Linked DNA regions of Homo sapiens. The protein of the gene in region 3 purifies or fractionates together with the protein of the main gene of each other region. This does not show direct contact. Each region holds a gene or a part of one and is shown on either strand. Other genes may lie near its edges. The genes, in order: PLS3, HACD3, CNR2, GART, DHCR24, KDSR and ARF3.

Evidence for each region.
Region 1: the proteins of CNR2 (region 3) and PLS3 purify together in Homo sapiens (affinity purification with mass spectrometry; one large-scale study listed by BioGRID and IntAct). This does not show direct contact.
Region 2: the proteins of CNR2 (region 3) and HACD3 purify together in Homo sapiens (affinity purification with mass spectrometry; one large-scale study listed by BioGRID and IntAct). This does not show direct contact.
Region 4: the proteins of CNR2 (region 3) and GART purify together in Homo sapiens (affinity purification with mass spectrometry; one large-scale study listed by BioGRID and IntAct). This does not show direct contact.
Region 5: the proteins of CNR2 (region 3) and DHCR24 purify together in Homo sapiens (affinity purification with mass spectrometry; one large-scale study listed by BioGRID and IntAct). This does not show direct contact.
Region 6: the proteins of CNR2 (region 3) and KDSR purify together in Homo sapiens (affinity purification with mass spectrometry; one large-scale study listed by BioGRID and IntAct). This does not show direct contact.
Region 7: the proteins of CNR2 (region 3) and ARF3 purify together in Homo sapiens (affinity purification with mass spectrometry; one large-scale study listed by BioGRID and IntAct). This does not show direct contact.

Annotation. Positions count from the first base shown.
Region 1 is NC_000023.11:115,563,746-115,568,348, reverse strand, and holds part of PLS3 (plastin-3), read right to left. Parts: intron 1-4,603. UniProt on the Homo sapiens protein: Actin-bundling protein.
Region 2 is NC_000015.10:65,557,928-65,562,530, reverse strand, and holds part of HACD3 (very-long-chain (3R)-3-hydroxyacyl-CoA dehydratase 3), read right to left. Parts: intron 3,852-4,603; coding exon 3,800-3,851; intron 1-3,799. UniProt on the Homo sapiens protein: Catalyzes the third of the four reactions of the long-chain fatty acids elongation cycle. This endoplasmic reticulum-bound enzymatic process, allows the addition of two carbons to the chain of long- and very long-chain fatty acids/VLCFAs per cycle.
Region 3 is NC_000001.11:23,878,368-23,882,970, forward strand, and holds part of CNR2 (cannabinoid receptor 2), read right to left. Parts: intron 3,986-4,603; exon of another isoform or gene 3,888-3,985; intron 1,238-3,887; exon of another isoform or gene 1,137-1,237; intron 1-1,136. UniProt on the Homo sapiens protein: Heterotrimeric G protein-coupled receptor for endocannabinoid 2-arachidonoylglycerol mediating inhibition of adenylate cyclase. May function in inflammatory response, nociceptive transmission and bone homeostasis.
Region 4 is NC_000021.9:33,503,506-33,508,108, forward strand, and holds the end of GART (trifunctional purine biosynthetic protein adenosine-3), read right to left. Parts: intron 2,600-4,603; coding exon 2,469-2,599; intron 2,198-2,468; coding exon 2,056-2,197; intron 1,023-2,055; coding exon 907-1,022; intron 811-906; coding exon 619-810; 3' UTR 428-618; downstream 1-427. UniProt on the Homo sapiens protein: Trifunctional enzyme that catalyzes three distinct reactions as part of the 'de novo' inosine monophosphate biosynthetic pathway.
Region 5 is NC_000001.11:54,852,696-54,856,195, reverse strand, and holds part of DHCR24 (delta(24)-sterol reductase precursor), read left to right. Parts: intron 1-1,961; coding exon 1,962-2,159; intron 2,160-2,583; coding exon 2,584-2,762; intron 2,763-3,500. UniProt on the Homo sapiens protein: Catalyzes the reduction of the delta-24 double bond of sterol intermediates during cholesterol biosynthesis.
Region 6 is NC_000018.10:63,329,207-63,333,809, forward strand, and holds part of KDSR (3-ketodihydrosphingosine reductase), read right to left. Parts: intron 2,696-4,603; coding exon 2,576-2,695; 3' UTR 1-2,575.
Region 7 is NC_000012.12:48,940,122-48,944,724, forward strand, and holds part of ARF3 (ADP-ribosylation factor 3), read right to left. Parts: intron 1,068-4,603; 5' UTR 975-1,067; coding exon 827-974; intron 1-826.

The DNA.
Region 1 (4,603 bases), on a different chromosome or scaffold from region 3:
GTTACCTTGAATTTTTCTAATCCAAAGCAAAGTGATTGAAAACATCTTTAAAGTACACACTACACAAGACACTTTCCCAGTAGATTAATTCATACATGTTGAATAGTATAGCAATAGGATGTGCTCTAGGGACAATTTCGTATCATTTTCACCTCTGAGCAAACTCTTTGCACCCTATAATGGTGATTCTTCCTGATCTGAAACACAAGCCCCAAAATGTTAAAATGAACAACAAGAAATGGCAAAAATGGGAACATTCAAGCAAGTTAAGAAATATAGAAAAAAAGCTTGAAAATTACATTCATCTATGAATGAAAGCGTTATTTTCAGTGTCAACAGCAGAATGTCAATCTGAGTGCAACACGATGTAATTAGAGCTTATAATGTGGAACACAATAATATGAATATTCAAAACTATTATACGGCCCTAACAAATTTTATTTTACAGAAAGTAAAAACTTATATTATATATCACGTAAAACTTTATATAATATACATATGCACACATAAGTGTATATATACTCGTGTGTGTATGAATATCACAACTCAAGGGAATCAGACTTGTATTTTCAATGAACTGGACAGAGTATGAATGGGCGACAGAGTGAGAACCTGACTCAAAAAAAAAAAAAAAAAAAAGAAGAAGAAAAGAAAAGAAAATCCAAGTTAATAGCTTTGAAGGTGTTTATTTTTCAACTTAACTTCCCACATTTTCTGTTTTTTTTTGTTTGTTTGTTTGTTTTTCTGTTTTTCTTTTGAGATGGGGTCTCACTCGGTAGCCCAGGCTTGGAGTGCAATGGCGCAATCTCGGCTCACTGTAACCTCCGCCTCCCAGGCTCAAGCAATCCTCCCACCTCAGCCTCTTGGGTAGCTGGGACTACAAGCCCGTGCCACCGTGCTTGGCTAAGTTTTTGTATTTTAGTAGAGACGGGGTTTCACCATGTTGGCTAGGCTGGTCTCCTGGCCTGAAGTGATCCACCCACCTCGGCCTCCCAAAGTGTTGGGATGACAGATGTGAGCCACCGTGCCAGGCCATTTTTTGTGTTATTCATGGCATGCTACTTAAATGTATAGATTATCTCTTCCACTATGCAGTTTCCCAGACCTGCGTGTTGTCCTCCTTTAGACTGCAATTATGAGGAGGAAAAACTTGATTTTTTATGAGGTTTTTTACACGAAACCTCCCATTATGGGCAATCACAAAACTAAAAATGAGGTATGGTAAGCCAATGGACTCTGTAACAATTACCACTGAAGACCAAAATTCTACTCAGTAGTTAGTTAAAAAGGGGAAAAACACCACCCAATTAATGGCTTTAACGGGCTACCTTGCACAATATTTGAGGTAAGAAATAGAAGAAAGTATCACATGGGCTGGGCGCGGTGGCTCATGCCTGTAATCCCAGCACTCTGGGAGGCCAAGGCGGGCGGATCACAAGGTCAGGAATTCTAGACCAGCCTGACCAACATGGTGAAACCCCATTTCTACTAAAAATACAAAAATTAGCCAGGCGTGGTGGTACGCGCCTGTAATCCCAGCTACTCAGGAGGCTGAGGCACGAGAATCACTTGAACCCGGAGGCAGAGGTTGCAGTGGGCTGAGATCACGCCATTGCATTCCAGCCTGGGCGACAGAGCGAGACTCCATCTCAAAACAAAACAAAACAAAACGGGCCGGGCGCGGTGGCTCACGCCTGTAATCCCAGCACTTTGGGAGGCCGAGGCGGGCGGATCACGAGGTCAGGAGATCGAGACCACGGTGAAACCCCGTCTCTACTAAAAATACAAAAAAACTAGCTGGGCACAGTGGCGGGCGCCTGTAGTCCCAGCTACTCGGGAGGCTGAGGCAGGAGAATGGCCTGAACCCGGGAGGAGGAGCTTGCAGTGAGCCGAGATCACGGCCGCTGCACCACTCCAGCCTGGGCGACAAAGCAAGACTCCGTCTTTAAAACAAAACAAAACAGAACAAAACAAAAGAAGAAGAAGAAAGTATCACATGTAGGTTTTTATTCTATTGTTATCAACCTAGTCTCTTATTTTTCATTATAATATGTCTGGCTTTATTTTTCCTTTGCTTGTAAAAATTGGATGGGTGCAGAACTTTTACAGACAAAGAAAAATGTGGCAAGACTTACGTGATGAGAACCCTGCCATTTCTGTAAACTCTTGTTAAAGCTTTAGTGTTTCTATGATACACTGCTGCAGTACTTTGAATTTATATAGCACCTGTCTGCTTAAAAGCCAAGGCTTCACGTTTCTCACTTATCCTTTTACCATGCCTGTGAAATATGTAGATTGGAATCACATGGCTTAAAAATAAAGTGAAACCCAGATATGACCACAGAAAATTTCAATGAGTTACTTAAGATCATCTATCTGTCCAGACTGCAAAGGACTAAAAGACCCTAAATTCTATGCTCAATGCTTTTCCAATAAACAACACTACCTCCTTATTATCAAATACGTTTCTAAACTTTTAAGAAAATGTAAGGTTTCTCATATTATAAAATCAGTAGGCTTAATGCACCAAAAATCCCTGTCAAGGAATTAAATAAATGGCACCTCTTTATTTTAAAGAACTAACATTAGTCATGGAATAACCCACTGGTGATCACTTTCCTGAATAGTCATCAATTTGCCAACAAAGTATTTAGCTTGGATCAATGCAATTGCATCAAAGTTTGAAAAGTCAACTGATAAGTGAAATAAGCCAGATTATGAATATTTGAAAAAATAAAACCCAGCAAACCAAAAAGCTTGAGCAATCCTCTCTTTTTATAAACAAAAGCATGAATGGTGTCTGGCACATGTATGTACTCAATTAGTTATTAATATAATAATTTTAAATGACTTTCCGAAGGTCAAATTATGAGTCAATGGCAGAGCACTATCTAGAATCTAATTCCTCTGAGGGCAAGTTCAATGATTTACTTAAGATAATCTATCTGTCCAGACTGCAAAGGACTAAAAGACCCATGCTAAAATAATTAGTATTTTCATTTTTGTATACTAACAATACTTCTTCATCCCTAAAACAGTTTATACTCACTAATATTTATCTTCCAAGTGTCAAGACTAAGGCAAAATTTGGTATTATTAAATTTATCGTGAATCTTCTGAAATTGTCTCACCTCCGTAACTAAAATAAATTGGCCCAAGTATGATCAGATCTTCTAAGACTGACATTTCACGATTAGACTGTTTCCATAACTTTAACCAAAGCGCTCTCATAACTAAAATCAGCTAGTCATGACCACTGGTATATAAAAATCTTCCAACATTGTAATGTATCCAAAAAGCTTTGAAACCTCCAACACACTGAATATACATTATATGGTATATCACTGTCTAAAATAATACAGACTCAAAACATGACCCAGCTGACTTCTTCTAAATGAGTTGTATTATTTTCACAGATCAAAAATTTTGCCTTCTGGATCACTCTTCACCAAAAGAAAAATTGCCATATGACCAAAGACAACATGATTCTAAAAACAGATACCCCATTGTTGTCATGTATTGAGAGATATTCATTTTCAAATTTTATTTTATACCAGCTACTTTCATAATCTGTACCAAACATCAAAAAAGAAACAGTTCAGCTTATACATTCCACATAGATTATGCTAGATCAAACACAACAGCAAACTCATGAATTTATCATATGTGCTAAGAACACTGTCAGTACATTTCATGAAAATCCAAGTAGAAATAATGCCTAAAACAGAATATGGGATAATGGCAAATGGACTTTCTTCTTGTACCCTCTCAGTGTCACCAAAAAGAACCACTTTGGTGCTCAAGCACCATGGCCAAGCTGCCCTTTTATTTTCAGTAACAGAATTCTGTTCTCCTGGGAGAAAAATCTCATTGGGTTTCTGATAGTGCCCTAGATACTGACATTCTGCCAGTATAAACAGTCACAGTCAAAGTCTAATGTGCGTGTAACCACTTGTGGAAGAGGCTTAATCTCACCCAAATTATTACTCACTAGTTATAATTAATCCTTCTACCCAAAATGCCATAAGCCTAGTCATTTTTATCAATTGAATCTAAATGGTTACATCAGACTAGAGACTTTGGACTTCAATGTTGATCGTCTGTATTAAGTCAAGGCAAAGTGTTATTTATTTATTAATAGCTCCCCACCTCAGGTAAAGGGGTTGCTATCTGCTAGATCTAACAGTAAAAATCAAGAATTTGACTCCCAGCCCCCTAATTTCAATAAAAATTTGGGCTCATTAGATCATACCACCAAAAAAAGTCAGCAATATTGGGGGTGGTGTTCAATGAGTAGGCATCCCAAGACAATGAAAAGCTGTGGACTAGAGCCTAGCGATGATTCTGTTTAGACATGATTTCACAATACTTAAAAAAGAACTTATCCCCCTACCACTGTAACCTAGTTGAGTGGTAATAACTTCCTTTTTTTGAGGTTAAACATTTATTATTTCGATCTAAAATTATATTATCACCTCACTTCCACTAGAGGGGTCTATCTACCAGTGTAGTTAACTCTAGTAACTCAGGTGCACCTTAAATCCATTTCCAGCTCATCTGTGCCACAAGGCTAGCCTTGGGGTCAGAACAATGTGCTTTAAGG
Region 2 (4,603 bases), on a different chromosome or scaffold from region 3:
GTATACAGACATAACAAACCCAAGAAAAAAATATTACCCCTGGTGTGATATTATGATATGTGTATATGTATATATAGGTTTTCGGCAACGGTTTCTGGCTTATAACTCCCACAGCCCTTGTTACAGTTTTTTGTTATAATGTTGGGACACTTTAGGCCTCAGACAACAGAATCTCCCTCTATGACCTTCCCTGCCTTCCTTTCAGCTGCCCAAGGCACGACTCTAATCTGATTGTGGGTCCTAAGACCCTCATTCCAGAGAGGGTCTTGCCTCATACTCTGGAGGAGGGAACACTGCACAGAGAGGCTGAGAAGAATCTGGACAGACAGGCCTTGCTGGGTTTAGGTCAGACCCTTTTTGTCCAATCACATTTCAACACAGTTCAACACGCTTCAGTCATGCCTATCCGATGAAGTCTCCATAAAAGGCCCAAGGGGACAGGGTTTAGTCAGCTTCCAGACAGCTGAACACACGGAGGTTCCTGGAGGGTGGCACACCTGGGGAGGGCATGGAAGCTCCGCGCCACTTCCTCCATACTTCCTCCTAATCTCTTCATCTGTATCCTTCATAATATCCCTTATAATAAATGAACAAATGTGTTTCCCTGAGTTCTGTGGAGCCACGCTAGCAAATCAATCAAACCACAGGAGCGGGTTGTGGGAACCGTAATTTACAGCCTATTGGTCACAAGTTCTGGAGGTTCAGACTCGGGACAGGCTGGGGGCAGGGGTGTGTCTTGGGGACTGAGCCCTCCATCTGTGGGAACCTGATGCTATCTCTAGGTAAACAGTGTCAGAATTGAACCAGAGGGCACCCAGCTGGTGTCTGCTGCAGAACTCATTGCTTGCTTGGTATGTGGGGGAAAAAACCCACCCACTTGGTCACAGAAGTCTTCTGTGTTGATTGTTGTTGAGTAAGAAAATAGGAAAAAGCAGTTGAGTGTTGTAGTGTTGTATTTTTTCCATAACACCTGGCAAAAAAATGAGTGGCCATCTGAAGAGGCATTACAAAAAGGAAATAAAGATTTCCTCAGCTCCGGCTCAATTTTTTTTTTCTTTTTTTTTTGAGACAGAGTCTTGCTCTGTCACCCAGGCTGGAGTGCAGTGGCACAATCTCGGCTCACTGCACGCTCCACCTCCCAGGTTCAAGCAATTCTCCTGCCTCAGCCTCCCGAGTAGCTGAGATTACAGGCTTCCGCCACCACGCCCGGCTAATTTTTGTATTTTAGCAGAGACAGGGTTTCATCATGTTGGCCAGGGTGGTCTTAAACTCCTAACCTCAGGTGATCTGCCCACCTTGGCCTCCCAAAGTGCTGGGATTACAGGCATGAGCCACCGTGCCTGGCCCTCCAGTCATCTTAATATAATCCATAGTTTCTTCTTTTCTGGAATTTCTTTAAGGTCACTGAGGTCAAACTAGCTCAAAGAGACAGATACAGTAAATGAAAAAAACAACCCTGATATTTGGTTATATATTCACTCAACCAAGCATTAACTGAATACCTACAATGTGCAAGGTACTGTGAGAAGAACTACTGGGATACAAAGGTAGTTCAAGGCTGCCCTCAGAGCTTACAATCTAAAAACTGTAATACCAGGTGGGGAGTAACAAGTAATGTCTTGTGAAACTTTCAAGGTGAAAAAACGACATTAGGCTGGAGAAGTAGGCATCAAGCTAGTCTACATGGATAAAGCTGGTATCTAATCCGGGCTTTTTTTTTTTTTTTTTTGAGATAGGGTCTCACTCTGTTCCCAGGTTAGAATGCAGTGGTGGGACCATAGCTCTCTGCAGCCCTGACCTCCTGGAGTCAACCCATCCTCCCACCTCACCGCCCAAGTAGTTAGTTCTACAGGTCTGTGCCACCACACCTTGCTAATTTTATATTCCATTATGTTTTGTAGAAACACAGTCTTGCTACGTTGCCCAGTCTGATCTCGAACTCCTGGCCTAAAAGATCCTCCCGCCTCAGTCTCCCAAAGTGCTGGGATTAGAGGCATGAGCCATCATACTTGGCCTGATCTGGGCTTTGAAAGATGGGCAGACTGAGGACATAACCAAAGCAGGACAATTTCAAACCAACATGCAGGAAAATAAGGGACATTAATTTTATCTGCAGCCTAAGATTCATGAAGATACAGCCAATTACAGAGTAAAGGAAGAAACAAGAGGCTTTGACAGAGTCATTGTTGAGTCAAAGGAGTAGGGTAAAGAAAAGGACAGTTCTTAAGAGGAGATCTATGGTGTTCAGATTTTGCTGCTACATATTTATTCCTAGGCTACAGATATTCTGCAAAGACATCTGGTTGGTCCTCAAATAATCACATTTAATAATGTGGTCAATCAAAAGCAGCCTAAGCCAGGCACAGTGGCATATGCCTGTAATCCCAGCTACTTGGGAGGCTGAGGTAGAAGGATCACTTGAGCCCAGTATCTTAAGATCAGCCTGGACAGCATAGCAAGACCCCATCTCAAAAAAAAAAAAACAACACAGCCTTATCCTAAGACTCCAAAAAATGTCAGACTTCTAGCAACATTTAGCTAATTAAAAGTTATTTCTTCAAAACTACAAAAATCTATTACACTTCCCCACCATAAAGAACTTCCTTGTTCAGAAAACTTTATGAATTTAGGTAAAACAGTTAAAGCTTTACCTAACACCCAAAAAATCCATATATTAGAATTTTTATCTATTTTTGAAGTTTATCCCTTTAAGACACCAAAACATTAATTTAAATCTCAAAGTGGCTTTTTTATGTTGTTATTCTTTGCCTCCACTGAACCTCTCCCCTCCTCGGCTTTCCTGAAAGAATATTCCCCTAAGGTAGTCGCTATTCAAATATTTTTTAAAATTCCTTCTCAAAAGAAACCTTATTCGGAATGCCAACACATAACACTCAAAAGAGAGCTGCTCTGACTGAGGTAGACCTGTTTGTGTGATCTACTCCTCCAAAGCATCTCTGGGAACCCCCTGGGGCACCATGGAACACAGTTTGAAAACTACTGCTCCAAAACTTTCCCCTCCCTTATTTATGGCATGCTAGATAAGTACCACTAAAATTTGAAAAATTTCAACTTAGAACAAGTAAGAAGGACTTATTTCATTCTGCTTTTCAGAGGTAGTTTTACATACACCTGCAGTTCCCTCACTAAGAATGTAAGCCCTTTTGAGTATAGGCGCTACGATGGATCCCTCTGGCTCTTAGTCAAGGGCCCAGCACAATGCTTGCCACACAGCATGACTTTAACAGATAGCTGCTGAATTTAATCTAACTACATCACCCAGAAGATAATACACTTACAGAGCTTCCTGCTTAAAGTGGTTAGACGGAAACAGAAATTGATTTGTTAAAGGTTAATGAATAGCAGGACTACACAGAATACTCTCCATCTTTCAGGCTGACAACCACACTTATGTATCATACAGCCTTTGAGATTTCAGCTGGGAGAAAAACACCAGGCTGAAGGAGTGTAGCCTTGGATCCATGCAATCATTTCCACAAGTCTCTGCAGGATTTGGTTGCCATCTGCCATGAGGCCAGTCCAGGAGTTCTTTCATTCTGCTACACTAGCCTTGGTGTACTCATGAAATAACAACCAAAACACAAAGGACACATTAAAGGTAAGGATTCTGACGTGGGTAGTGCAGACCTTAAGCACTGGACCTAAAAGCTTTTTCATAAACTCACCCACACAGCTCACCGGGATGAAATCATTAGCTCTCCTGCCACATCACAATTATCCATACTTCCAACACTAGCACAAGTTAACTGGTAACTACCATGGCAGCAGCACAACTTACTTTCAGGAGAGCCTTCGCTTTCCAGTCGGAGTTTATTTAGGCGCTCTTCTTCCTAGAATTTAGACAAAAGTTTTCCAAGAACACAAGTTAGAATTCCCAGATGCTTGCAAAAGTCCATATGCTGGCTGAGTAATCTGACTCCCTCAAAGCCAACTCCTCCAGTTGGGGTCAGTGCATCATTGGGAGAATATTCTAGGTCATAGGGCCAAACGCCTGACTCCTGCTTACTAAGCAGCATTAGCATCACAGGTGCCCATCCATTGTTCACAAAATTAACCCAGTGAGCTGGCTTCCAAACTGACAAGTGACCTTGGAATCTTAAAGCTGGAAAGGACATCCAGAAGATCTGTCGCAGTCAGAGAAATAAAACAGAAGTTTAAGGCAGGAGGTAGACTGCTATTTTATTTTTCAAGACTTCTAGAATTTTAGTATAATTTTTCCAGAAGCTAAGATCATGTTTCCAACATCACTATGAACTCACGTTTAGCTTAACAGAGATACAGATGGATCCATACAGAAATATTTACAGGTGTATGTGTATGCATGGGTTACTATCCAAACATATATTTTCTTGTTCTGTCAGTGAAGAGAACTTAAAGGCAATGGCAACCTGGTAGCAATGAGCATACCCGGCACCCAGATCTTGGTTTCCAATGCTATTCCACAATAAGAACAGAGATGCTTGAAGAAATGGCTGTTCCAGGGCTGGAGCAGGAAACATACATGCAAGATAAGCCTGGAGCAGCTTATACTGCCAGAAAGTAAGGAAGTGCTCAAAAAAAAAAAAAAAAACAGTCCCATAAT
Region 3 (4,603 bases):
AACAAAAAAGAATTATTCAGGATCCATGAAAAATAAGACTATTCAGATTTGGAAATCACAGGGAACCCAAAGCAGAATTTTTTTTTTTTTGAGACAGAGTTCCCAGGTTCAAGTGATTCTCCAGCTTCAGCCTCCTGACATAGCTGAGACTACAGGTGTGCACCACCATGCCCAGCTAATTTTTGTATTTTTAGTAGAAAAGGGGTTTTCCATGTTGGCCAGGCTGGGCTTGAACTCCTGGCCTCAGGTGATATGCCCACCTCGGCCTCCCAAAGTGCTGGGATTATAGGCGTGAGCCACCACACCCAGCCCCAAGTAGAATTTTTAAAAACACATTCCATGTTCATGTATATCATATAGCATACATATCAGAATACCAAAGACAAAGAAAAATATAAGGCAGTAAGAATGAAAAGCCAAATTACCTGTAAGAGAACCATAATTAATTTTAAGAGCAGATTTCTGATCAGCAACAATAGAAGCCAAAAAATAAAGAAAAAACTGTCAGTCTAGAATTTTATACCCAGCTAAACTATCATTCAAGAATGAGGTCTAAAAAATTCAAAGAAAATTGTTCACTAACAGACTTTCACTGAAGGAACATCTAAAGAATGTGCATTTTAGAAGGAAATTCAACCCAAAGGGAAGAAAAGAACGGCAAGAAAGAATAGTGAGCAAGTAAGTTGACAAATATGAGTAAAGAAAAGCAAATGGCTTTATAAAACAACAATGATAATAGTGAGTAATTTATGCCCATCTTTACTAAAAACACAAAAATTAGCCAGGCGTGGTGGTGTGCACCTGTAGTCCCAGCTACTCAGGAGACTGAGGCAGGAGAATTGCTTGAACCTGGGAGGCAGAGGTTGCAGTGAGCCGAGATCATGCCACTGCACTCCAGCCTGGGTGACAGAGTGAGACTCTGTTTCAAAAAACAAAACAAAACAAACAAACAAAACCAAAGTGGAGACTGGGCACAGTGGCTCATGCCTGAAATCCTGGCACTTTGGGAGTCCAAGGCAGGAGGATTGCTTGAGCCCAGGAGTTCAAGACCAGCCTAAGCAACATGGTGAAACCCATCTCTACAAGACATAAAAATTTAGCCAGGCGTGGTGACATATGCCTGTATTCCCATTTACCTGGGAGGCTGAGGTCAAAGGATTACTTCAGCCCAGGTGGTCCAGTGTGCAGTGATCTATGATTGTGCCACCACACTCCAGTGTGGGTGACAGAATGAGACCTTGTTTCAAACAAAAACAAAAACAAAGTAGAAATAAAATTGTGAATGACAAAAATGCAAGACAAGAAAGAGATGAATAGAGTTAAAGCTTTATCTAGGAAGTGGGTAAAGACATTGATTAATTTTAGGCTTAAAAAAAAAACCAGGCATCATCTCTTATCTGGTTTATTGCAATAGCTTCCTAACTGGGCCCCCTGCTTTTAATCAGGCCCATTTCTAATCTAGTTTCAACATAGCAGTCAGGGTGATCCTTTAAAAATATAGGATCTTGTCATTTCTCTGTCCCAAACCCTGCATAGCTCCCTAGTCCACTATGTAAAAGCCAAAGTCCTTAGTGTTATGGTCCCTTCTACCATGATTCCCTTGGTGACCCAGCTTTAGCCACATTGGCTTCTTAATCAGTCTTCTCTTCAGCCACAGGTCCTTTGCACTGGCTGTTCCCTTTTCCTGGATCACCTTTCCCTCAACATTTACTTGGCTTGCTCTCACCTTGTTTAAGTCTTTGCCCAGATCTTACTTTTTCAATGACACCTACCCTGACTACCCCATGTAATACCCTAACTCATCCCAACTTCCAACTCTTTTTTTTTTGAGACGGAGTCTCACTCTGTCACCTAGGCTGGAGTGCAGTGGCACAATCTCGGCTCACTGCAACCTCCGCCTCCCAGGTTGAAGCCTTTCTCTTGCCTCAGCCTCCCGAGTAGCTGGGACTACAGGCGCATACTACCATGCCCGGCTAAGTTTTCATATTTTTAGTAGAGACGGGGTTTCACCGTGTTAGTCAGGCTGGTCTTGATCTGACCTCGTGATCTGCCCGCCTTAGCCTCCCAAAGTGCTGGGATTACAGGCATGAGCCACTGCACCTAGCCCAACCTCCAGCTCTTTTGCTTTTCTTTACACTGACCTCGTCTTTATTTTTTCCATACCACTATCACCTTCTAATATATAAAATGTATTATTTTTAGTTTTTATTTTTTTGAGATGGAGTTTCACTCTTGTCACCCAGGCTGGAGTGCAATGGCGCGATCTTGGCTCATTGCAACCTCCGCCTCCAGGGTTCAAGTGATTCTCCTGCTTCAGCTTCCTGAGTAGCTGGGATTACAGGTGCCTGCCACCAGGCATGGCTTTTTTTAATATATATATTTTTAGTAGAGATGGCGTTTCACCATGTTGGCCAGGCTGGTCTCAAACTCCTGACCTCACGTAAAGTGCTGGGATCACAGATGTGAGCCACCACACCCAGCCTATAGTTTATATATGTAATTTAAATATAAATTAACATATTACATATAATTTAAATATAATTATAAATATAAATTAATATAAAATGATCTGTTGTATAAAATTGTATTCTGACCACATAAAATTTATTTAGAAATTAATAATTAAGGCTGGGCGTGGTGGCTTACACCTGTAATCCCAGCACTTTGGGAGACCAAGGCGGGCAGATCACCTGAGGTCAAGAGTTAGAGACCAGCCTGGCCAACATGGTGAAACTCCATCTCTACTAAAAATACAAAAATCAGCTGGGCATGGTGGCAGGCACCTGTAATCCCAGCTACTCGGGAGGCTGAGGCAGGAGAATCGCTTGAACCCAGGAGGCGGAGTTTGCAGTGAGCCAAAATCACACCATTGCACTCCAGCCTGGGTGACAGAGTGAGACTCCGTCTCAAAAAATATATGTAATAATAATAATTTTAAAAAATTACTGGTTGGGCATGGTGGCTCATGCCTATAATCCCAACACTTTGAGAGGCCGAGGCGGGCAGATCACATGAGGCCAGGAGTTTGAGACCAGCCTGTCTCTAATAAACCCCATCTCTACTAAAAATACAAAAATTAACCAGGCCTGGTGGTGCACACCTGTAATCCCAGCTACTGAGGTGGTTGAGGCAGGAGAATCGTTTGAACCTAGGAGGCGGAGGCTGCAATGAGCATCACTACACTCCAGCCTGGGCAACAGAGTGAAACCCTGTCTCAAAAAAAGAAAAAAAAAATTGCTAGGCCGGGCATGGTGGCTCACACCTGTAATCCCAGCCCTTTGGAGGCCGAGGCGGGCGGATCACCTGAGGTAGGGAGTTCGAGATCAGCCTGACCAACGTGAAGAAACCTCGTCTCTACTAAAAATACAAAAAATTAGCTGGGCATGGTGGTGCCTGCCTGTGATTCCAGCTAGTCGGGAGGCTGAGGCAGGAGAATCGCTTGAACTTGGGAAGGCGGAGGTTTCGGTGAGCCAAGATCGTGCCATTGCACTCCAGCCTGGGCAACGAGAGCGAAACTTTGTCTTTAAAAAAAAAAATTACTAACAAAGTTCATAGGTATGGATCTTTTTCTTGAGATGGAGTCTCACTGTTGTGCCCAGGCTGGAGTGCAGTGGAGCAGTCTTGGCTCACTGCAACCTCCACCTCCCAGGTTCAAGCGATTCTCCTGCCTCAGCCTCCCAAGTAGCTGGGATTACAGGTGCCTGCCACCACGACCAGCTAATTTTTTGTATTTTTAGTAGAGATGGGGTTTCACCATACTGGCCAGGCTGGTCTCGAACTCTTGACCTCAGGTTATCTGCCCACCTTGGCCTTCCAAAGTGCTGGGATTATAGGCATGAGCTACCGTGCCTGGCCTCAGGTATGGATCTTTAAAAACACACTTCGGGATCCCTTCGTAGTTCATAAGCGTGATGACTGGTTTTCACGCTCACGTGTGAGATGTTCCTCAAACCTATGATGACATTGTCACGTTACCAGTCTGATGTGTGAAAAAAGAAAAAAAGACACACTTTTGAACAATTCCTGGGTCAAAAATTCATAAAGGCGATTAGAAGATACTTGGCATTGAATGACTACGAAATTGTGAGACATTAAAATGTGTGAGATTCATCTGAGTCGTATGCAAAGGGAAATTTACAGCTCTAAATGCTGATACTATCAGGTGCGGTGGCTTACACCTGTAATCCCAGCACTTTGGGAGGCCAAGGCGGGTGGATCACCTGAGGTCAGGAGTTTCAGACTAGCCTAGCCAACATGGTGAAACCCCGCCTCTACTAAAAATACAAAAAAAAAAAAAAAAAAAATTAGCCCGCATGATGGCTGGTGCCTATAATCCCAGCTACTTGGGAGGCAGAGGCAGGAGAATCGCTTGAACCTGGGAGGCGGAGGTTTCAGTGAACCAAGATTGTGCCACTGCACTCCAGCCTGGACAACAGAGCGAGACTCTGTTCTCAATAAATAAATTAATAATAAACGCTCATACTACAAGATAAAAAAGCCTCATGAGCTCATCATGCAACTCATGAAATTAGAAGAAGGGCCATGGCATACATTCAAAGAAAGCAGAAGACAGAAATAATAAGAGCAGAAATTAATGACATGG
Region 4 (4,603 bases), on a different chromosome or scaffold from region 3:
CCGCACCCAGCCCATTATTATTTTTTGAGACAAGTCTCGCTCTGTTGCCCAGGCTGGAGTGCAGTGGCATGATCTTGGCTCACTGCAACCTCCACTTCCTGGGTTCAAGCGATTCTCCTGCCTCAGCCACCCGAGTAGCTGGGATTACAGGTGCGTACCACCACACCCAGCTAACTATTTTTTGTATTTTTAGTAGAGATGGGATTTCACTGTGTTAGCCAGGATAGTCTCGATCTCCTGACCTCATGATCCGCCTGCCTCGGCCTCCCAAAGTGCTGGGATTACAGGCGTGAGCCACTGTGCCCAGCTGAAAACATAAAACTTATAAACATGGAGGTGATTCATCATGTTGTCAGGCAATACCAAAAAAAAAAAGAGGGGGTGACGGTTAGAAAAAGAGCATAAAAAAGACCAAGAAAACTGTATGTCTCAGATATGCTGCACTAACTAGTCTTGTTTTTAGTGAGTCTCTATTTATTAAAAAAATAGATGAAGTAAGGGTGAGGTCTTTTTTGTCTTTTAGCAGTTTTTCTTTTGGGCCAAGTCCATGATAAAAAACCACCATGCAAACAGCAAATAATTCTTTCTAAACTGGCCCCATTTCTGAATTAAAAGGCTTCATTCCTCTTTAACCCAACAGATCTTGCCATTTTCTCCAAGCTGTACAGTTCCACTGGCCACCAGCTGAAGGGCTGCAGGAAATATTTTATGTTCTGCTAATTTTACTCTTTCAGAAAGAGTTGCGACAGTATCACCCCTCTTCACGGGAACAGCTTCTTGCAAAATAATCTGTCCAGCATCCACATCTTCCTGGAAAAGTAAGCAAAAGTTTTGAACATTACCTTCTAGCCAGTGTCATTTACATCTGACTACTAATATTATGTTGGTAGAAAAAGACATACTCACAGCTACAAAGTGTACAGTGCACCCAGTAACTGTGACTCCGGTTTCCAGGGCTTGCTCATGGGCATTTGAACCCTTAAAAGAAGGGAGCAAGGATGGGTGGATATTGAGCATTTTTCCTAAAAATTAAAAAAAGCATAGTGGTCAGAATTTAAAAATCCTGGGTATTCTGTTAAAGGAATACGTTTTCCTATCTAGATCCGAAGTCAAACAGGAGTTGGATTTCTGGGATGGATGTTTTCTTTGCCAAACACAGAAATGAGGTAAAAGTAAGTTCTCATCCAAGAAGGCCCTGGAAGCAGCAAGTACCCGCCTTGCACAGTTAAAGGCATGCTGGGGTGCTCTGAACAGACATTCATGGTGACAGGAAGGTGGGGAGTTCAAGCTGAATACCAGCTTGTTGCTGGCACGTACTATTAAAAATAAGCAAGAGGTTCTTACATAGCATCTATGTGCTTGACTTCTAACCACAAAGTGACCTGTCCACCAGACAGATGCTAGATTAGTTCTGTGTGGCTCATGTCACCAAAGGCATTGTCTATTTTATATCACACCACAAGTGCTCTAACTACATTCACCTAAGAATACATAAACTCTTTGGAGGGAAAATGCATTTATTGACCAACTGTGTGCACACATACACAAACAGGATGCAGTCAAGGCTTTTGGGAAGAAGGCAGTAACATAGATAGTATGTGTTTTCTGGCAATAACCTCCTCCTTGCCAACTCCTGGCAATGGTCTATGCTTCCTAAGAGAGGATGGACTCTTCATTTTGGGATATACGGAATCACTCTCTTTTGCTTCCAAACAAATAAAGGAAGGTCTTCTGAATATTTATTCAAAAGATGAAATATTATCTTTGCAGTAATGTGAAACAAAACTAAGCTACATTAGAAAAAGTGATTAATTACAGCAAGCCAAAGTAAATGGATAGAGAGCAGGTTAATAAATCATCATTGGGTCATTCTTTAGTGTAAAACAAAGGAAATTAAACTGTGACCTGTGTTAAAGTATTAATAAAATATCACAGTCAAACAGGAGTTGGATTTCTGGGATGGGTGTTCACTACTGGGATTGTTTGGCAAGTTATCTGTTCTGGAGACCATTTTCAATTGATTTCCCAATGTGATGTCAAATAATTTTTGCTTACCATTCCACTTTTGGACAAAGGGGCCAGAAAGAATTCTCATGAATCCTGCAAGACAGACTATGTCTATGGAGAACTCTTCAAGGACTAGGTCAATTGCACTGTCAAATTCTACACGATTTTTATACAGTTTATGATTAATTACCTGTAATAGAAAAAGATAAGCACAACCCTTTTCAATGAATTACCAAAAATAATTAAAAACTCAACCTTTACACAGACCATACTTCACTTCCTTGTAAAGATATACCTGATAGAGAGATTATTAAGAAAGGGACAGGATGAAGAAGGCAAGCCCAGCACCCACCCAAAATGGCGAAGTCCCAAGAACAAGTGCCCATAGACCAGGGTCCTGTGAGGGCAGATTACGAGCTTAAATATGGCCCACAGCAAAGATATTTTCCCAAGTAACTTACTCTAGTGGGAATACCAGCTCTTTCCGCTTTATCTAACCCAGCTACTGCGGCTTTGTTGGAGATAACAATATCAATTTGTGCAGAGCTATTTGGTTCCCGAGTACTGTCTATAAGTGCTTGCAGGTTCGATCCTGAGAAGGGAGAAAAACAGCAGTGAGCTCATACTACTACTTCTTTTTTTTTTTTTGAGAGGGAGTCTCACTCTGTCGCCCAGGCTAGGAGTGCAGTGCCACGATCTGGGTTCACTGCAACCTCCACCTCCCGGGTTCAAGCAATTATCCTGCCTCAGCCTCCTGAGTAGCTGGGATTACAGGAGCCCACCACCACACCTGGCTAATTTTTGTATTTTTAGTAGAGATGGGGTTTCACCACGTTGGCCAGGCTCGTCTGGAACTCCTGACATCAGGTGATCCGCCCACCTCGGCCTCCCAAATTTGGGATTACAGGCATGAGCCACCGCGCCCAACCTCACACTTTTTAAAAAAAGAGATGTGCCATTTTGAATAGGGGACAGTCAAATTTTCTGAATAAATGTCTTGGAAAAGACTGGTGATATGTGAGGCTTCTAAATTCCCTTTCTCTTGGCACAGGCAACTAAAGTAAATATGGAAAAAGCTTCTGTATAGCAATGGAAACAATCAACAAAGTAAGGAGACAACCCACAGAATGGTAGAAAATATGTGCAAACTACCCATCTGACAAGGGATTAATAACCAGAATATATAAGGAGCTTAAACAATTCATTAGGGAAAAATCTAATACTCTGATTAAAAATGGGCAAAAGATCTGAATAGACATTTCTTAAAAGAAAACACACAAATTGCAAACAGGTATATAAAAAGGTGCTCAACATCATTATCATCAGAGAAATGCAAATCAAAACTATGACATATTGTCTCGCCCCGGTTAAAATGGCTTTTATCCAAAACACAGGCAATAACACGCTGGCGAAGATGTGGAGAAAAGGGAACCGTCACACACTATTGGGAAGGTAAATTAGTACAATTATTATGGAGAACAGTTTGAAGGGTCCTCAAAAATTAAAAAAAAGAGCTACCATATCATCCAGCAATCCCATTGCTAGGTATATACCCAAAAGAAAGAAAATCAGTGTATCAAAGAGATACCTGCAGTTTCATGTTTATTCTCCCTAGCCAAGATTTGGAAGCAACCTAAATGTTTATCAGCAGACAAATGGATAAAGAAAATGTGGTACATCACACAATGGAGTACTATTCAGCCATAAAAAAGATGAGATCCTGTCATTTGCAACAACATGGATGGAACGGGAGGTCATTAAGTTAAGTGAAATAAGTCAGGCACAGAAAGACAAACCTCACATGTTCTCACTTATTTGTGGGAGCTAAAAATTAAAACAGTTGAACTCATGATGATAGTGCAATGATGGTTACCAGAGGCTAGGAAGGGTAGTGGGAGAGACGGGGAGAGGGGATGCTAATGGGTACAAAAATATAGTTAGAATGAACAAAATCTAGTGTTTGATAGCATAACAGGGTGACTATAGTCAACAATAATTTATTACACATTTTAAAATAACTGGAAGAGGCTGGATGTGGTGGCTCACACCTATAATCCCAGCACTTTGGGAGGCCAAGGCAGGCGGATCATACTGAGGTCAAGAGTTCAAGACCAGCCTGACCAGCCTGGCCAACATGATGAAACCCCATCTCTACTAAAAATACAAAAAATTAGCCAGGCATAGTGGCAGGTGCCTGTAATCCCAGCTACTCAGGAGGCTGAGACAGAAGAATCACTTGAAACTGGGAGGCGGAGTTTGCAGTGAGCCGAGTCTGCGCCACTGCACTCCAGCCTGGGCGACAGAGTGAGACTCTATCTCAAAAACAAAAACAAAAACAAAACAAAAAAAAACTGAAATAAAATAACTGGATTGTTTGTAACACAAAGAATAAATGCTTGAGGTGATGAATACCCCATTTACAGGGATGTGATTATTACAGGTTGTATGGCTGTATCAAAAGATCTCATGTACCCTATAAATATATATACCTACCATGTACCCATACAAATTAAAAATTAAAAAAACTCCCTTCCTCTTGGGATAATGGATTAATAGATTGTGAAAAGCACAGATATTCCTGGATAGCCTCCAGTTC
Region 5 (3,500 bases), about 31 Mb from region 3:
AGGAACACACAACCAGAGGGTGGGCCGAATTTGTGGACCCCTGCAGCACACATTAGACACCCACAACCGAAGGCAGTAGTGCCCTCTGTATTGATACAGGATACAGTGATGAGCCAGTGGTGCTAAGATGCCACCATTTATGAGGTTTTTTTGCTTTCTGTTTTTTCAAAGCTCCTCTGCTTCTCCGTATCAGATGTCCCCCAAAGGGTAGGCAAATCATTCTTACCAATGCTTGCCATTAGGGAGGGGGAGGAGAGTTGAGGGTGGGTGGGGAGCCAGGTCAGGTCATTGCTGGGAGGGAAACAGGGTCAGGAATGCGCAGGGAGGCTTAACTTTTGTACTATGGGGATTTCTGCTGTGGGCATGTGTAGGTCTTCCAAAGGTAACCAAGGAAACAATAAAAGCCAGGCTATTTATTGAGATCCTGTTGCATGCCAGACATTGGCAAAGGCGCAGGATCTAACAGAAGAAAACAGGCAGGTCCCTGACTTCATGGGAGTGGTCCGGCAGCTCCAGAGGAGTGAGGGAAAGGGTCACTCAGCCTTCAGTGCTTACACACATGGCTGCTTTGGGGAGTCACCGTGCCCCCTAGTCTGATGTGGACCCTTTCATGAGCTGCCCCAGCCTCTGTTTGTCCCCACTCTTCCCACACTCATCCAGTGGCCTGTGTCTTCCACACCTGCGGTTGTGGGTGTCTTAAGGACAGAGACCATGTCTCAGTTATCTTGGTTCCCCAGCACCCAGCATAGAACCTGGTTCCTGACCTCGGAGGCCCCTTGGAACTGTTTTTTTTTTTTTTTTGGAGACGGAGTCTCACTCTGTCGCCCACACTGGAGTGCAGTGGCACAATCTCGGCTCACTGCAAGCTCCGCCTCCTGGGTTCACGCCATTCTCCTGCCTCAGCCTCCTGAGTAGCTGGGACTACAGGCGCCCGCCACCATGCCCGGCTAATTTTTTGTATTTTTAGTAGAAACGGGGTTTCACCGTGTTAGCCAGGATAGTCTCGATCTCCTGACCTCATGATCCATCTGCCTCGGCCTCCCAAAGTGCTGGGATTACAGGCATGAGCCACCGTGCCTGGCCAGAACTGTTTAATGAATGGAGGAGCAGCCTTGGCTTCAAGGGCTCCCAGAGCTGTGAGAATCGGGCATCAGTGGACACTGGGGACCCTCAGGAACATGGTAGGACTCAAGCAGGGAGGAGGATTGTGACCCAGGGGCCAAAGTCTTCTCTGTTGGAGGTGGGCAGAGCTGGAGGGAAGAGGGGGCCATCGTCAGGAGGCAGCAGTGCTGAGTGAGGAAGCTCCCGCCTCGTGGCAGTCTGAGGCGTGGAAGAGAACAGCTTCTGCGCAGGAGGGTTTCCAGGGAGACCGAATTGGGGGAGCCAGGCGGGTGGTCAGGCTGTGAGCAAGGGATGCTGCAAACCAGTGGGCTCCTTGTCGAACCTGAGCCAGACTGCACCCACCCCATGAGCGCTGTCTCTGGCTGTGTGCCCCTAGGGAGACTGCTTAAATTCTCTAAGAATCACTATGCTCATTCAACAGCATTCGTTTCTCAAACATTTATGGAATGCCAGCTCTATTCCAGCCAGATCTCAACAGCTAGATCAGGAATGATAGCTAGCTCATTATTGCACTCCAGGCATGGGGTTGAGTGCCTTCCACTTGGTATTAATATCTCATTATCCTCACAAGGCCCATTTTACAGATAAGGAAACTGAGCTCAAAGAAGTTAAGTAACTAGCCCGGGGTCATCACTACTGGCGAATGCCAGAGCTGAGAAGCAAACCTAGATTGGACTGGTAAAGTCCTAGGTCCCATCACACCCCCTCCAAAGAGGGGAATTGGACTCAGGCGTGCTTCTGTCAAGCACAGAATGGGACCTGGCCCCTGGCCCCTTGCACTTGGAGACATTCAACCCTTGTTGGTTTTTTTCTCTCCAACCCTAATCTTTGTTTTCCAGGACATTATCCCCTTTGGCAACAACCCCATCTTCCGCTACCTCTTTGGCTGGATGGTGCCTCCCAAGATCTCCCTCCTGAAGCTGACCCAGGGTGAGACCCTGCGCAAGCTGTACGAGCAGCACCACGTGGTGCAGGACATGCTGGTGCCCATGAAGTGCCTGCAGCAGGCCCTGCACACCTTCCAAAACGACATCCACGTGAGTGGGGCAGGGCAGGGAGGGCGCACCAGGTGCATTCCCTTGGAATCCATGGTCTCCTCCCCTGAACCGTGTGACCGACCTTGGGCACACTGCCCTCTGGGTGTTTTCCCAACTTTAAGATGAGGTCCTTGTCCCTATGTCTGCTGAGGCCTCAACCCACTCAGTGATGGCCCCCCTGGGAGAGGAGTCATAGGGTCTGGCATCGAGCACTCCCATGACCTGCTCCGATTGTGTCCTCCAAGGTGGTGGAGTCAGGGTGTTCTCAGCCAGGGCTGGGGGGCGGGGCAGTGAAGCTGAGAGCACCTGAGGGGGTCTTGAGAATGCTGCAAAGCCTTCATTTGGGTGGGTATGAGCGGGCCAGCCATGAGCCTGTCACCTGTTGGAGAAAAAGCACCAATACCCACCTCCCTGGTCTACCCAGGTCTACCCCATCTGGCTGTGTCCGTTCATCCTGCCCAGCCAGCCAGGCCTAGTGCACCCCAAAGGAAATGAGGCAGAGCTCTACATCGACATTGGAGCATATGGGGAGCCGCGTGTGAAACACTTTGAAGCCAGGTCCTGCATGAGGCAGCTGGAGAAGTTTGTCCGCAGCGTGCATGGGTGAGTGGCCCAGAGTATAGTATGTTGCCTCTAGCTGACAGCCCCAGGGTACTGCTCCAGGGGAATGAGGCCAGCTCTATGGAGAACCAGGAGCCCCAAGCCTATCAACTGGTTCCTTAGGGCCCCTGCAGCTGTGGCAGCCTCTGGGTCAGGAGGTAAGCTGTGAAAGATGGGCAGGGGGTGGGCTTGCAGGACTACTTGCCCTCTTCTCCCTGCACCCCCTCCTCCAGTGAACATGTCACACCCCCCCAGCAGCCCCAGCCAGAAACCTGGGAGTCACCCCACTCCTCCCCACGGAACAGATGATGGGTGTGGGCTTAGCTGGGTCCAGGGGCAACTGCTCCAGATGGAAAGGCCAAAGCTAAGGAGAGAGGGATTCCTGTCTATGAAAACCACGGAGAGGCCCAGGACAGAGGATTGCTCAGAAAACAGCCTGGATAAACTATTGAGTGGAACATGGACAAAGCCAGGAAAAAACAATGCCATATGATTCCTTTCATATAAAATTCCCAAAAACACACATGAATCCATACTGATAGCGCATCAGTAGTTGCCTGGGGATGGCAGAGGGCAACGGATAACTAAGGGGCATGGGGAAAGTTTGGGGCTGATGGTTATAGCCACGATCTGGACTGCAGTGATTGGAGTCCTTGGTTGCATGCATGTGTCAAGCTTATCCAATTGTGTACTTTAAATTATGTCTAGTTTATTGAAAGTCAATAACAGATTAAAGGAAAA
Region 6 (4,603 bases), on a different chromosome or scaffold from region 3:
TATCCAAAACCCGCTGGGCTGGATGTGTTTCAGAATTCATAATCTTTGGGGTTTTAAAAAGGCAATATGGGCATATTTTGAATATTACAAAACACCTCCACAGCATCTAAGGGAAAACCTATAATCAAATCCATGGATATTTCTTCAGGGAAAATTAAGTCACAATGAAGTAGCATAAATATAAAGTACAATACTCTCACATCAGTTCAAGTCAGATTTTGCTGCCAAATGAATTACGGTATCAAATTTAGAAAAACACAAACCAACTTAGATTTCGAAGTTTCTTTGCTAAGGGACTGTAGCCCTTTAACATCTCTGACAAGGAAATTTCTTCTCTGACATGATGGTCTCTGCAAATCTGCTCTCATATTTCAGTGGAAATTGGGATAGGGACAATTGTCTTCTACCGCAAAACAGGGGCTCTCAACAGGTGCTCTTAAATTTATTCGGGTAGTAGATTACCATCTCACTGGAGGCAACAGGTTCTATGAGGATAATTTGAAAAAATATATTGAAATAACTATTTAATGTTATTAAATCAGACACTTTCTTGGACTAGATTCTAATATAGATCAGCAGTAGAAGGTGCCAACATTCGAGGAACATTTATGAGAAAAGAATAAAACTGAGAAACATCCAGACATTAATGCAATTGTTTTCTGCAAATTATAAAAAGCTATGATTCCATTTTAGCAGCTGCACAACGCAACTCGATATAATCTGCAAACTTTGGCTCTGTAAGACTGAAAGATTTATGAAACCATTCTGGCATCAACCCATCCTTACAAGCTGCAATGAAATCATTCCAAGCAATTTATATATTAAATAATAATTTCTTCTGTATCTATCAGTGTTTAAAATATGCTATTCTCAGATCTTAATAAAAACATGGGTTAAAGCCATAAAACATCTTATTTTTTAAAAAGTTAAGTCATTTAAAGTCAAGAGCTTCAAAAACTCAAGAGCAAAAAAAAGGTATGCTATAATTTTTAGGTCTTCAATTTTTGTATAGAGTTTTTATGTTTTTTAAGTTTTATTTTACAATTTAAGAAAGTTTCCTCTTCAAAAACAGAGGTCTTTTCTCACCGAAGTGATCTGGAATGTGCTACCGTATATGCAAGGAAGACAGGTTACAAGATCAAGGTGAAGGCAGCTCTCCTCAAGTCAGAGGAGTGTGAACAATGAGCAGGATGCAACGGGGAATGTTGGCTAAAACTCATCAGAGGCACTTGCTGTCAAAATCCACTAATGAACACAGATCCTATAACCTGGAAACAACATTCAGGGGCCAAGAGGGTTTCCAGGGCTACAGAGTTAGATGAGTGGGCTTCCTTAGCATGTGGTATAAAAATAATGTCTGCAGGTTCAGTGGGAGAGTCACATAAAGAACAGGTGATCATTTTATTTCAAAAGCAACTCTCTTCAAAATCAGCCTTGTCTTTTTTTCTTAATGAGCAAACTTTATACCATCATCAGCCTTTCCTAAAAGCTACATATATGCTCCGAGAAAAAGTCACACTTTTTAATTTTTTCATTTGCTTTAATTAATTCATGAGTTAAGTTAAAAAGTCAAGTCGAAAATTTTAGCTGGTCTTTTTTTTCCTTTTTTTTTTTTTTTACAAAAATATTACAGCAGTATAAGCAAAATTGGAAAGGAAGAGATGGGAAAAACAAGTAGATGCTAAAATGGGATAGGTGAACTTCAGGTCATCATGGTTATTGAAGGAACTGTAAATTCTTAAGCTTCTAGATTTTACCGCTCTTCAGAAAACATTTAAGGAGGCTGCCTTTCCCCATGAATGAGAAATGAAACGTTCCCTAAGCATTTGAGTCTAAAGACAAGAAAGCATTGCTTTTCCTACTGGAAAATATCTCTTTACTTCCCATTGCACTGCCCTCTCCCGTCCCCCTCGTAGCTTTATGGGATCAAAGAGAGAGAGAAGCCATGAGTTTCCACCAGCAGCAGAGTGAGTCCTGAGCACAACACAGGGCTGTCAGTGACATTCAGACTCACTGGCAATGGGTCCAACTCATCTTGAATAAAATACACAAAGAAAGAAAGAGAGAGAGAGAGAGAGACAGAGAGACAGAGAGACAGAGAGACAGAGAGACAGAGAGACAGAGAGAGAGAGAGAGAGAACCCGAGAAACCGAAAATTGTTTTTTTATGGAAGGTTTAAACAAAGTCCTCAAGATTTCTTTATGTGCCAGAAAGTACATTTCTGGACTTAATCTCTAGGGGGGCAAAAAAGAATAAATAGAAACAAATTTAATGATCATTCTGGAATCCTGTTCTTTACTTTGTTCACACGCTATTAATTCTCATACCTTCACCTCTCTACCACAAAGCCTAGAAAATCAAATGGTCTCCTATTCCATATTTGCATAGTATTAATAATACTGTCAGGAGGTGAACTTCTAGCCCCTTGCTTGCAGCCACATTCCTGAAGAGCACTGGTCCAATCTGACGTATTCGAAAACAATACATAAGTGTCTATAGGCCAAAAATTGGGTCCCATTTAGCAGCAAGCTGTTCAAATTATTTGGAAACAGTCTTCTTCCAAGGGGTAAGAAGATTAGGCAGTTTTGTCTGCATTTTCAGATTTTTCTCTCTGCATCATGCAGCGACGAACTATGCTGTCAAAACTTCCAAGGTAAAACAAAGCAATAGTGCGGAAAAGGCCCATGGTGACCACCTGCAAGATAAAGAGAGAGCTTTTAGTGCATCCAACGGTACAAGACTATTTCAAGGTACCTAGGTCTCTAACAAACAGTTTCTAAGACAAATCTTCTAGTCTGCTCTAAGGATGAATATAATGAAAACTCTGTAAATGTCAGTAAGCTGTGAGAACAGAATGTGTGTGCTCTGCACCGCTGGACAGCCCAGATACATAACAAAATATTTGTCCAATTAATAAATTCAAACCATAAGCAGAATAAAATATATATTGCTTGCAGTCTTAGGGTTATAATAGCTTTAAAAAGACCCACTGCAGCATCTCAAATAGCCAAACTACAATCAAGGCTTTTTTGGTTTGCAATTTATGTTCTGAGCATGAAAGCGAGACCCTATACTAGGTGCTGTGAACACTGTGGTGAGAGACACAGTCCCTGCCCTCAATGAGCTTATTCTCAGGCTGGAAAGACAAGTAAAATTGAAACTACTGCCTCAGGGTTGAGACCCGTGATTACTGATATCCTGTTGCTCAGGATGGAGTGCAGTGGCATGAACGCGGCTCACTATAGCTTTGACCTCCCAAACTCAAAGGATTCTCCTGCCTCATCCTCCCAAGCAGCTGGGACCATAGGCATGAGTCCCCGTGCATAAGAGAATGGAAAAATCAGGCCGGGCGCGGTGGCTCACGCCTGTAATCCCAGCACTTTGGGAGGCCGAGGCGGGTGGATCACGAGGTCAGGAGATTGAGACCATCCTGGCTAACACGGTGAAACCCCATCTCTACTAAAAATACAAAAAAATTATCCGCGTGTGGCGGTGTGCGCCTGTAGTCCAAGCTGCTGGGGAGGCTGAGGCAGGAGAATGGTGTGAACCCAGGAGGCAGAGCGTGCAGTGAGCTGAGATCGTGCCACTGCACTTCAGCCTGGGTGACAGAGCAAGACTCCGTCTCAAAAAAAAAAAAAAAAAAAAAAGAGAATAGAAAAATCCCTTTGTTTTTTTCCCTACACCCTCAGAGCACTGAAGCCAGTCCTTGGATCTTCCGGAAAAAACAATATTTAAGGTGAGACCTGAAGGATTAGAAGTTGGCAGGACACAGAGAAGATTCCAAAAAGAAGAAGATGGGTAAAGAAAGAAAGAAAAAAAAGAGCCTGGAAAGGTACGTGGGGTAGGAGATCAGGTGGTTTATGGCATGCGATGGAAATTTTTTTAATTTTTAAATCCTTTTTAGAGACAGGGTCTTGCTCTGTCACCCAGGCTGGAGTGCAGGAGTATGATCACAGCTCACTGTAGCTTCAGACTTCTGGACTCAAGCAGAAGTCTCCCAGTTGCTAGGAATACAGGTACACACCACCACGCCTGGCTTTCTTTTCTTTTACATTTTTTTGTAGAGACAGGGTCTCACTATGTTGCCCAGGCTGATCTCAAACTCCTGAGCTCAAGCGATCCTCCTGACTTGGCCTCCCAAAGTGCTGAGATTATAGGCATGAGCCACCATACTCAGGTGCAATGGAATTTTTAAAGCTTTATCCTGATGGTATCAAGGAGTCATTGAATGTTTTCATGCAATGTATAGTTGCAGTTTAGAAACAACTGGTGTGGAAAATGTGAGGGTACACTCAAACGCATCCAGGGGGCCTGAGCAGGGGGTTGCAGACCATAGTGGTTGCAGGGACTGTGCTCCTCCCTCAGGAGCAGCTGCCACCTGTGCTTGCTGATGACTGCCAGGTAAGAATGCAGACTCTGTGCAGCTAAACCTTCTGATTTTCCAAGAAAAGTCTGAAATCTGGACCTTTTATATAAAACCTAATTTTAAAACTATTTTAAAATCTTAAACACACACACTCACACCAGATGGACCCAACAAAACTGCTTTACAGGCCCATGGGAATCGTTTACAACCTCTGGCTCAAAAAGTGTGTAACTCAAG
Region 7 (4,603 bases), on a different chromosome or scaffold from region 3:
CAGGCAATGGCCACTTGGCCTCAAACACTAGCCCCGCAAACACCACCACAATGAGTTTGGTTCTGCTTTCCCCCAGTGGTGGCCATAACACCAACAATGGAACAAAAGCTAAGGCTTCCTCAGACCTGATAATCGTTAAGCTAGCAGCCTGAAGGCCAAAATGAAAACCTAAGAGAAGTCAAAGAGGATGAGGAAGTTGGTTGAGAGGTTCACAGTTGCCTGGGTAACGTGGGCCAACTTTCCTGACTTTTCCACTCAGTCTTTGGTGCTCCCTCCTACAAAATGACTCAGCCCTGCTCTGGTACTTTGGCTACCAGAGTCGGCCTCAGCTAAGATGTGGGGCCTGAGAGGCAGAGTGAAGAAAGGGAAGTAAGCTGGCATCCTGGAGCCCCAAAGGCAGAGCCAGCTGACAATGCTGACTGGAGCCCCCATCTACATAGCAAATGTAGGGAGACCTCCCTTCAGCAAACTGTAACCAAGATTGGCCACCAAAGATCTAAACCCAAGTAATTCCAAGCCTTTGGCAGGAACATCAAAGCCTTTTACCTGCTTTCCAAACAACACAGAGAAGAAACCAACTCCGTGCCTGAGGGCAGCTGTTGAGTGCCAGGCCATGGAAGTTCCCGCATCAGGGAGAGCCAGGTTAGGTGGGCAAACAGCAGCCTCAGCACCTGGTAGTAAGCTAAACAACACCACCCTCTTTTCTGAACCCCACAAATTGTATGGACTTGCCTGGGGAGAAGAGGCCAGGTTGGGGAACCAGGAATAGGTCCCTGCCCTGCCTCAGCTGCCGGCGTGAAAGCCCACATCCAAGCTGTGCTCTTACCAATGGTAGGGATGGTGGTGACGATCTCCCCGAGTTTCAGCTTGTATAGGATGGTGGTCTTTCCTGCGGCATCCAGGCCCACCATCAGGATGCGCATCTCCTTCTTCCCAATCAGGCTCTTGAGAAGGTTTCCAAAGATATTGCCCATGATCACAGCAGCTGCTTTCTGGGGACAGTGGGGCCCAAGTAGGGGCAGTGGCAGTCTGGTTTTGGCCTGGTCCCTGGTATGGAAGACTTGATCCTAGACAAAGGAAATGTAAAATCATACCATCATTTGCTTGTCAGGACTTCCAAGTAAATAGAATTTCCCAAGGTCATGGCTAGAGTTCATTCATGACAAACGGAGAGCCTGAGGGGACTATAAATACCAAGGCCCACTCAGATACATACTGAGTCTTTGGGAACAGAGACAAAGCAGTAAACACTAAGGATCCCTGCTCTGCCAGTAATCTAACCATGTGACTCTGGGCAAGTTACTTCACTTTTCCATATCTGCACCTGTAAATGGAAGGGGGATTGAACTAGATGATTTCTGAAGTCCCTTCAGTTCTGACATTCTACCCTATACCCAAAGGCATTGTAAGATCATTAATGCCCCTCCCTCCCCTAACCTTACTTACCCTGAGACTTCTGGCAAGGGTGGGAGAGGAGGGAGCGGAATAAGGAGTGGCTCTCTGTGACTCCTGACAAGGTTCAGGCTTGCCAGTTTCCCAAGGTTTATGCTTTCTCCTTTAATCAAGAGACTCTGCCTCTTCCCTTCCTATATTTTTGCAACTCCATCTTTCTTCCACACCAAAATAAAGGAGGAATAAGAAAGCCGCACTCTTAAAAGAAGCCGATCCTTTACACTCTGTGGAATGCCAGCTGCTAATGTTGTGCCCTGTTCAAACAACAGTGCACTGGCAGTAGAGAGGTGGGGTATGGCGGGGCTACCCCTTTACTCCTCAGCTAGGTGCATCCTTGGCTTACTGTGGCCCATCCAAGGAGGGGGCTGTCCCACATGGTCGCTGCAATGAGGCAGTCATCTCATTGGTTCTCTGCTTCTTCCCTAAGCCTTTCGGCCTATTCTCCATATAGCATCTAGGGTGGTTTTAAAACCAAACTCAGGTCATATGAGTCCTTTGTTCAAAACCCACTCGTGGCTTCATAGCTCCTTTTCAGTAAAACCCAAGGCCCAAACCATGGCTTACAAGGTCCTACAAGACCTACACTCCCCTACTTCTCTCATGAGATCTACTACTCTCTCTTTGCTTACTCCACTCCAATTCCCCAACACTTTCCTTTCCTGCCTCAAAGCTTTTTTTTTTTTTTTTTAAAGAGGCGAGGTCTTACCGTGTTGCCCAGGCTGGTCCCAAACTCCTGGGTTCAAGCAATCCTCCTGCCTTAGCCTCCCAGGGCACTGGGATTACAAGCATGAGCCACCATGCCTGGCCCAAAGCTTTCATATTTGCTATCACCTCTGCCTGGAATGCTTCTCTTCCAGATAACCATCATAGATTACTCCTTCACCTCCTTCAGTTAGTTGTCTGTTTCAATGTCACCTACCAAAGAGGCCTCCCACAACCACATGTATAACACACACACACAGACACACACCACTCCCTACCCCATTTATCCCACTTTACTTTTCTTCACAACATTTATCACCATCTGATACATTATATATTTATTTCTTGCTGATTGTTTTATTCTGCCTAAGATATCAGCTCCTTATGTGTTTTGTTCACTGCTCTGTCTCCAGTACCAAGAATAGTGCCTAGCACACAGTACTTCAAAAACTGAACTAATCCCCAGGGTCTCTACTGACTTTACTGAAAGCTCACTCAGACTGGATGCTATGCCTGGCATATGGTAGGCACATAACAAATACCTGCTGAGGCCGAGCGCAGTGGCTCACGCCTGTAATCCCAGCACTTTGGGAGGCCCAGGCGGGTGGATCACCTGAGGTCAGGAGTTTGAGAACAGCCTAGCCAACATGGTAAAACCCCATCTCTACTAAAAATACAAAAACTAGCCGGGCATGGTGGCACACTCCTGTAGTCCCAGCTACTCGGAACGTTGAGGCAGGAGAATCACTTGAACCTGGAAGGTGGAGGTTGCAGTGAGCCGAGATCACGCCACTGCGCTCCAGCCTGGGTGACAGGGCGAGAATCCATCTCAAAATAATAATAATAATAGTAATAACAACAACAAATACCTGCTGAAAGGATGAACAGGACCAAAAGAATCATTATGAAGGTATAAAATGTCTATCTGCTCACCCCAGCCATTGCCCCAACAGACAGAATCAGATTCATTCATTCATTCCCTTTCTTCTTCCCTCTCTTCTCTATGGCACAGGATAGCCACAGAAATGCATCTTTGAAACAATAATAAAATGAGGATTCAGAATCACCCATACAAACCAGTTCTCTGTGCCTGCAGGAGGCATGTGTCAGCGGGCAGCTTATTCAGCAATCACCATATGCCAGCTGCTGGCATTCTCTAGAGTCTGGGAACCAGAGACACACACACACCCCAAACTCAGCAGCCAAAGGGACAGGTCAAGACAAAGTGCGCCCAAACCCAAGAATGTGAAAGGTGGACGGGGAGGAATCCTATTTACAAGCTAACGCATGGGGGTTTGGTGGGAGTTTGGTTGTTTTTACAAAAACTTCTGACATTTCCCCCACCACCCTTCTCAGTTTGCAGCAAATTCCAGACTAGTGCAACTGAGCCAGATCAACAGTCCCTGAAGACCAAAGTACTAGTTTGTCCGAAAAAACAGAAACAATGAGTGCTTATGAAGTGTTTCATCTTCAAAAGGCCTCCCCAGACAGCCACTAATGAGCCAGGCGTGGCACTCTCAGTAGGTTCCCCAGATGAGCCCTACCCCTGACCTAGAGGGTTCACACACCAGGAAGAAGGGCTAGCTCAACCTTAGGGTTCAACTTCAGTCAAGCCACCCGCTAGCCTTCCTCCCTACTCTTCCTGCCTCAACCCACCCAGGTGGACAGACTCCTGAGGACCCCTGAGCGACCTACCCAGCTAAGAACAGCTCTCACCAACCTTGGCAATTTGTAGTAGTGACTTTTGGTCATACTACTAACACCTCATGAAATTTAAACCTTTCCCAAGTCTTCCTAGTCTTCTAGCCTTTATTCTGCCTCTTGCTCAGGCAGCCTTTCCTTCAGCTCCAGATGACACTTTGCTTTAAAGGTTTGGTATCAGGCTTTGGCCCAGATTCTGAATTAAATTTATGCCACACATTTATCTTGCTGTCCTTTATGACTGAAACTATTGCTGATTAAATGCTTACCAACTGTGAGTATAGTGGTGGCTGAAAAAGATATAACTAGCCAATATGCCTTGCCCCAGAACACAGGTACACTGTCCTTTGATTTGCTTCTTTGCTCGGCTGTCATGCTGAAGTCCTGGTTCAAAAGCTGATCCCAGTGTTACACCTATTATTTCCTGGCATGCCACATCAAGGCCTTACTTTGAATGACCTTAACCACTCAATGTGGCACTTACTACCTTGTCGAGTTTTTCTTCTTTTATAAGTCTGTGTATTTACTGCTTCCCACGTTAAGCTGTGTATTCCCTATGTGCAAAGACTATGTCTACTTATTTTGAATCTGTCCTCCCTCTAGTGCCAAGTAGATTGTGGGAGTTCAATTAAGCACATTGGCTGATTTAAGCCTCATCTGAGGATGTCCTTATATTATTTCTTCTGTCCAGTAGGATTTGGTATCTCTGTGTAATGCACAGCGAGTTGCTTAGCTATCCTGTCCATTC